Regions from separate parts of the Homo sapiens genome. Here region 2 is reported to be linked to region 1. Evidence: microRNA targets listed by miRTarBase, many of them from high-throughput screens and not tested one by one. Region 1 holds a microRNA gene; the other region holds the end of a gene's coding sequence.
The links. The annotated mature microRNA hsa-miR-574-3p reads CACGCUCAUGCACACACCCACA and lies in region 1 at 1,936-1,957, opposite strand. An mRNA with a match to its seed (bases 2 to 7 or 8) in the 3' UTR can be bound and repressed. Matches are read on the target gene's strand: a 7mer-m8 pairs with bases 2 to 8, a 7mer-A1 pairs with bases 2 to 7 and ends in A, and an 8mer does both.

Region 2: miRTarBase lists PDZD2 as a target of hsa-miR-574-3p. The part of its 3' UTR that is shown has no 7-base or 8-base seed match.

Annotation. Positions count from the first base shown.
Region 1 is chr4:38,866,883-38,870,048 of GRCh38, reverse strand. It overlaps MIR574 (microRNA 574), which reads right to left and starts at 2,017; the gene lies at 1,922-2,017. It overlaps FAM114A1 (family with sequence similarity 114 member A1), which reads right to left and starts at 2,243. Exons shown (of 15, transcript NM_138389.4): 1 at 2,215-2,243; 2 at 1,503-1,651. It also overlaps a transcript of TLR6 not described here. RefSeq lists an enhancer at 1,109-1,692 and silencers at 1,900-1,949, 2,000-2,479.
Region 2 is chr5:32,107,876-32,111,041 of GRCh38, forward strand. PDZD2 (PDZ domain containing 2) reads left to right here. Exons shown (of 25, transcript NM_178140.4): 25 at 94-3,057. The coding sequence ends at 260. LOC105374711 (a long non-coding RNA gene) reads right to left here and starts at 316. Exons shown (of 4, transcript XR_007058716.1): 1 at 1-316.

The DNA.
Region 1 (3,166 bases):
TCCTCTGTAAAGCTAGGATGGACAAACTGATCTGGATGCTTTTTTTTCCAAACTCCACCTGCAGGACTGGGGCAAGTCTGTGATGATAGAGAAAAATGAGGACAAGATTGCAAGTTTTTCATAAATCTAAATTTATTAAATGTAAAGGACTGCCTTCATCTTTCAAGTTTAGCCTTTGTGCTTTTTCTTGGTATTAAAATGTCTTTCATTTTATGAAATAGTGACAGTGGATGGATTTTTTTAAAAAAAATGGCCTGACTTGGCAGCATAAAAATTTGGTTAGCATGATATCCTGTGTGAGGTCATCTCCCCCAGTTAAAAAAAAAAAACAAAAACAGTGCCAGTCAGCGAAGGACCAGGAATAAAAACTCTGGATGAGAGGCTCTTAATCAGGTTGTAGCAGTTTGTATGAGTTTGTATAAAGCTTGACAAGTCTACGTACCCAGGCTCCAGCCTATTCTCTGTGAGGCTGCCAGGCATTTTTGGACCTATTTGCTCTCCTGTTCAAAAACCATTAGGTGTAAATATCTTCACACTTCCCATCATAATCCAGCTCCAATCTCTCTCCACCTCTTGCAACTCTCAGTATCCTCCACTCCTGCCTCACCAGTCTTTTCTCCATTCCCCATAACTCTTCACATCTCCCTGCCTTTGCTTACGCTGGTTCCTCTGCCCCGGTGCTGCCCTTCCTCCAGCTGCCTGGCAAACTCCTATTCCTCTAGACACCCAGTGTCTAATGTTACCTTTCATTCTGAATTTTTCCTTAATCTGCCCCACTGCTTCCAATGAAATAACTGCTACCTCTTCTATGTTTTTGGCACTTTGCACAGATTTCTATTCCATGTATTTATGGAGTATTTACTTCTGCCATTCTGTCCTCCAAGACTGTGACCAACAGCACCTAGGTTGGTTTCTGTCCCTCAGATATTTACTGAATTGAAATACATTGTGTTTGATATTAATAAAAGAGAAACCATGTTTGATGTAAGCCTGGTCAAATAAACAAAGACAAGTTTACTTTTATGGTCTGAATCGCTCAGATTCAAGAAAGCCCCCTCCAACCCTCAAATTCCTTCTGCACTGTCTCACTTGTGCCTCAAATCCATCCCTAACGTCTCATTCCTTCACTTAAAGGTTACAATGTAAGAAGTTTATCAGATTCTTTCCCAAGCTCAGGCTTGATGGAAGAAAGGAGGGCGGGGACGCAGGCCTATGGGTGGGGTAGGGAAGGAGCCACTAGGCTGCAGAGAGGGCAAAAAGAGGCTCTGAGGATAGAGCCTGTCTCATTCTCAGTTGTCACAGGTTGGCTGAGGTCACAGGGAGTTCAGAGCACACTGATTTAAGAAGCCACCTGCCTGTGTCCTTCAAGATGTTTAGGATGGGAAATGATGGGATCAGTAGGGCATAGGTAATGCTCTCACAGCCCATAGAGAGATGTCTTCCTACTTAAGAAAAGGCAGTGACGTTCAGGCGCCTGGTCTGAGGTGCCTGGAAATACTCACCGGATGGCAGAGGCGAGGGCTAGCCGACTGGGTGGAGGGGGCCTGGGGATCTGCGGTAGGGAGTGGGACCCATCCCGGGGGCTGCGAGTGGAGGCGGTGCCTGCTTAGAGTGTTGGCTGGACTGGAAGAGCAGGCAGGGCGTGGGTCGGCTGTTGGGGGAGGAGTAAGGCGAGGGGAGCGGGGAGGTCAAGGCCTGAGCTCCCTGTGCCAAGGCCGAGGGCAGGCGCACCCTGGGACGAGGCCTCTGTCTTACAGGGACCTGCTCCCTTCGTGCCCGGGCTGGGGGACCCTGCAGCCCACCTCTGACTTGGCCCCGAGCCATTGGGGGCACTTTTCCAGACTTGCTTGGTGCCAGGACTGGATACTTTGGGAGATCCAGGCAGGCTCCGCGGAGGTTCACGCAGGCCGAGGGGGCAGACCCTGAGTGTGGGCGTGTGGGTGTGTGCATGAGCGTGGACCCGGAGCGACACACACTCACACACACACACTCACACGCCCGCACCCACGCAGGTCCCTCGGCCGCGCCGCCCCAGACCCTCACCCCAGAGCCGGGTCCTCCCTGACCACTGCTTCTCACTAACGCAGAGGGCAGGATTCGTGGGTCCCGGACGAGGCGCCAAGGTATGGTGTTCCCACCACCCCCGGGCAGCCGCCCCCGCGCTCGCCCGCCCCCCGGGGAAGGGGATGGGGACCGAGTGCCCGGGGCTCTTACCGCTCAGGCGGCCGAGTACGCGCGGGAGTGCCCAGCGGGTCCCGCCCCGCCACGTCTGCAGGGCCGGCGGGGACGCGGCCGGAGGGCGGGCGGCTGGAGAGGGGGCCCCGCCCCGCCTGCGCCCCGCCCCACGAGGAGCGCCGCGGGGACGCCCGGCCACCCCCACGCTGCGAGGGCCGGGCCCGCGCTGGGCGAGTCTCCTGGAAACTTGGCTTGTCCCACCCCTGTGCCAGCGCGGAAAGCCAGAGCGCGCCGCCTCTCCAGCCCAGGGCGGGTGGGTCTCGGGGTTCGCCAGATCCCTTTCCTTTCCTTAAAAGGGCTTGGAAAACCCCCCGCCGTGTCACTGGGAAGAGGTCGCTCAAATTCAGCTAAAGTTTGATCTCCTGATTCTGCGTTAAGCAGCACTCCCTTGCCCTGTCGGTGGGAGTGTGATAGATTTAAAACAAACAAACCCCAAACAAACAACGAAAACCCACTTTCCAGAAGGCCAGTTTGGAGCTGTGGGTTAAAACTCCGATGTATTAGCTTTGGCCTAGGAATTCCACATTTGTGAATTTGTCCTAAGTAGGCAGTCAAATGGGCAAATATGTATGTACAAGGATGTTTGTTGTAGTTGTTTCTGCGGGGGGAAGCCGGAGACAATCTCAATGTCCCCCAGTAAGATTGGTGAAGTAAGCTACAGTAACTTCAGACATCGAATATGTTGTAGCCCTTAAAAATGAGGATTCGTTGACATGGAGGGAAGGCCACATATGAAGGCCTTCCTCAAATATGGCTTAATATGAACTCAGATGCGGAGGAAGCGCAGTGTTTATAGTATTAACTAGTTTTGTAAACAATTTTGTATTTTCTATAAAAGTCGGAGGAAATACAATTTAAAAATAGTGATTCTTTCTGAGCGATGTGTTTAAGGCAGATTTTCTCCTCTCTCACTCCATCCCTTCTTCTTTTT
Region 2 (3,166 bases), not on the chromosome of region 1:
TATTTTTATCACTTAAAAGTTTTTAGTTTACTTAGGATTTTTGAATACTATGAAACTGCCAAGCTATTAATTATTCTGTGTTTATTCTCGTAGGTGGTGCGGCTGAACAAGCTGGAATAATAGAAGCTGGAGATGAAATTCTTGCTATTAATGGGAAACCTCTGGTTGGGCTCATGCACTTTGATGCCTGGAATATTATGAAGTCTGTCCCAGAAGGACCTGTGCAGTTATTAATTAGAAAGCATAGGAATTCTTCATGAATTTTAACAAGAATCATTTTCTCAGTTCTCTTCTTTCTTTAGCAAATCAGAGTGACTTCTTTAAACCACAGGTTGTTGAAATGGCCAACACTGGTACAGACACGGACTATAAAAATCTCCAAGCTTGTGCTTACACATGAAGCCTGACTTAACTGTATGTGCAACAGCAATGAAATTAACTCCAGAAGCCTTCCACCTGCGTCACCCAGGCCGGGAGGGTTCCTTCGTTCCAGTGCCTGTCCCCTACCTTTATGTTATGTTTACTGATGGGGATACAAGATGTGACACACCCTTCTTTATTTGAAACAAACAAACATTTAGCTAGACCTTTGCTTCCTTCTTGCCAGCTCTCCCAACATACCCAATCCTGGTGATCAGGGAACTAAAAGTCTGAGGGGGACACAAATGTCACACCTAAGAGGACAATCAATCATTTTGTATGATTTTGTAAGTAAATGACAGAATGCTTTTAGGCACATTCAATGGAAGGAGGAGATGTAGGTCTGTATATGTTACCCTGAAAAGAGAATAAGACTTACTTAAAAAAATGAATTATGACCTGTTAGGCTGAGCTCAGGAATTGTCCAAAAAGGAAAAAGCAAAATAATTAATTGAGAGTATTTTTTAGTGAGTGTAATGTATAATGTACGTATGCAAAGTTCAACTCAATAGGTTATTGATCACCATGAAGTATTGATCATTTTCTATCTCAAAAGTGTAAGCCATAAGGCTGTTTTACAGAATAGCACTTCTGATAAGCTGTATTAAATAGCCATGAGCTTCACTGCTTAGAGGGAGCAGAAAGGTCAACATCTAAAAGCACCTTACAACTAGTTTTTGAACCTGTCTTGATAAGTGCTTGAATTCAAGACTGGTCAGTCCAAGAGCAGACAAAAATATCACAAGTCAGTCAGTCACTGGGTTTCCATTTCTGAATTTTATGCACTCCAACCATGAATTTAAACTAAATTTTTAGAAATCAAGTATCTTTCTAAGTGTCCTTGGATTTATAGACAATGTATGTACAATCCAAATAGAGGAGCTTAATGGAATCCTTTTAGGAGACTGGTTGGTTTTTTTCCCTCTTTCCCAACATGTTTAAGAAATGTAACATTCTAAGTATTGGATCTCTTTTCTTGACCTAGTATAATGACAACTGCAGTGACTTAAGTTTTTGCTGTTTTCGTTTTCCCGCTTTGCAATTTCCTCCTTTTGCCAAAAATGTTTTCCTACAGAAGACTGTCGTGACTCACGCTACTTGGGAAACTCACTCTGGCCACTCCTCCTCTGGTGGCATGAGCTGCTTCCCAGTAGCTATTCCGATTGGATATTCCGTTCGTCGTCACATAGCTGGCTTTTCTCTCCTCATGATGTACCTTATTTTCTTAGGTAAATAATTCCAAACTCTCATCGGGTCATAAAGAGGAGGAGAAACAGGGTGAGTCAAGGTAAAGGAGCAGAAATGTAGTTACAAGCCAGGTCGTCTTCAGTGGCACAAACCAACCCGTTGAGCCCTGACAACATGAGTGGAGAGTGCATTTGCCATACCTGTGTGCATGACACTAAGATTTTATGTTGGAGATACTTCTTTAAATAACCTACAGCTTGGGTCTATGGCTGTGACCCCCAGATTCATGGAGGGGCTTTAGCCATCAGCTTTGTACATCATCATTTTTCTGAATGACCAATCCCACTAAACATCTTTGAAGTCGGCCTAGAGAGGTCCTTCAGATGAGAGAGAAATAGCTGGCTTGTCTGAGTCCAGATTTCTCATCAACTGGCAATACAAAGGAAAATATGGTACAGGAGTTAGTTAGAAAGGTCTTATTGATTTTACTTCTACTTTTCACTACAGTTACAGGTAGAATACTGTAGGAAGTCAGTGCAAGGTGCATGCTTGATTGATAGATATTGATTGATTGTTTTTCAGTCTCTGGGGTCAGTTTTGTGGTTTCTGCTTTCTTGCCTAAATCAAAGACTATTTCAAGTCAACAACACTGAAAACTGCTTTTCGCCTCCACTCTTACAGCTGTGCCTAATAATAATTAATTAATAAACGCACAGCCCTATGTGAACAGACAGGAATTTCTTGTGCAATGTGGAGCAAATGGAATGGTCTCCTTCCGCAAGTCTTTTTAATCCTCATATCTGGAGTACAAGGGTAGACCTCTGGCTTACCACATACACTATGCTAAAGTCATCAGCCACTGCTACTACATCTTGCCAGAAGGTTTCCCTCGCCAACAAACAGTTGAAATTTAAGGGAAGAAGCAAAAGCTAAACTGTCTTTGACCCTAAGATAGATAGAAAGCTATTTATTTGTCTTCAGTGTTCAAGGCATGACTAGTATTTCTAATTAGCCTAATAAATTCCCACACTTTCTGAAGTGAACACTAATGGTATTGTCCTACTAAAACTGTCATTGTTTCTTTTTTTTTAACTGGTCAGTCATTCACAATAAGCTATGAGGGTAAATAAATATGTGTTATAACAAGTAAACCGTAGTTGCAAGAATATACCATGAAGATTAAAGTAGGCTGGGTTTCATTTCCATCTTCCCACACATCTCATTGAATTTGATGGTTGACTTAATTGGCACCATAACTTTGTATGATATTATACATTAACCTTTATTTATGTAAAGTAAAATGCCTTATATATTAAAGAGTAAGTGCAATAATATGAAATAGCCTGTACATTTTAAAAATGTTGTCACCAAGTTATATAAATCCACATCTCTGTAAACAACCTTTTTTAAGTAATTTTAAAAAAAATAAACACTCTGCTTACTACTTGATTTTTTTTTTCTCTTTTGGCTGTTTGTTTGTTAATAATAGAGTAATATTGAGATGAGAAATGTTTATTGTCACCTAAATGCATCAGAGGTACAAAGGCAATAGAACTCA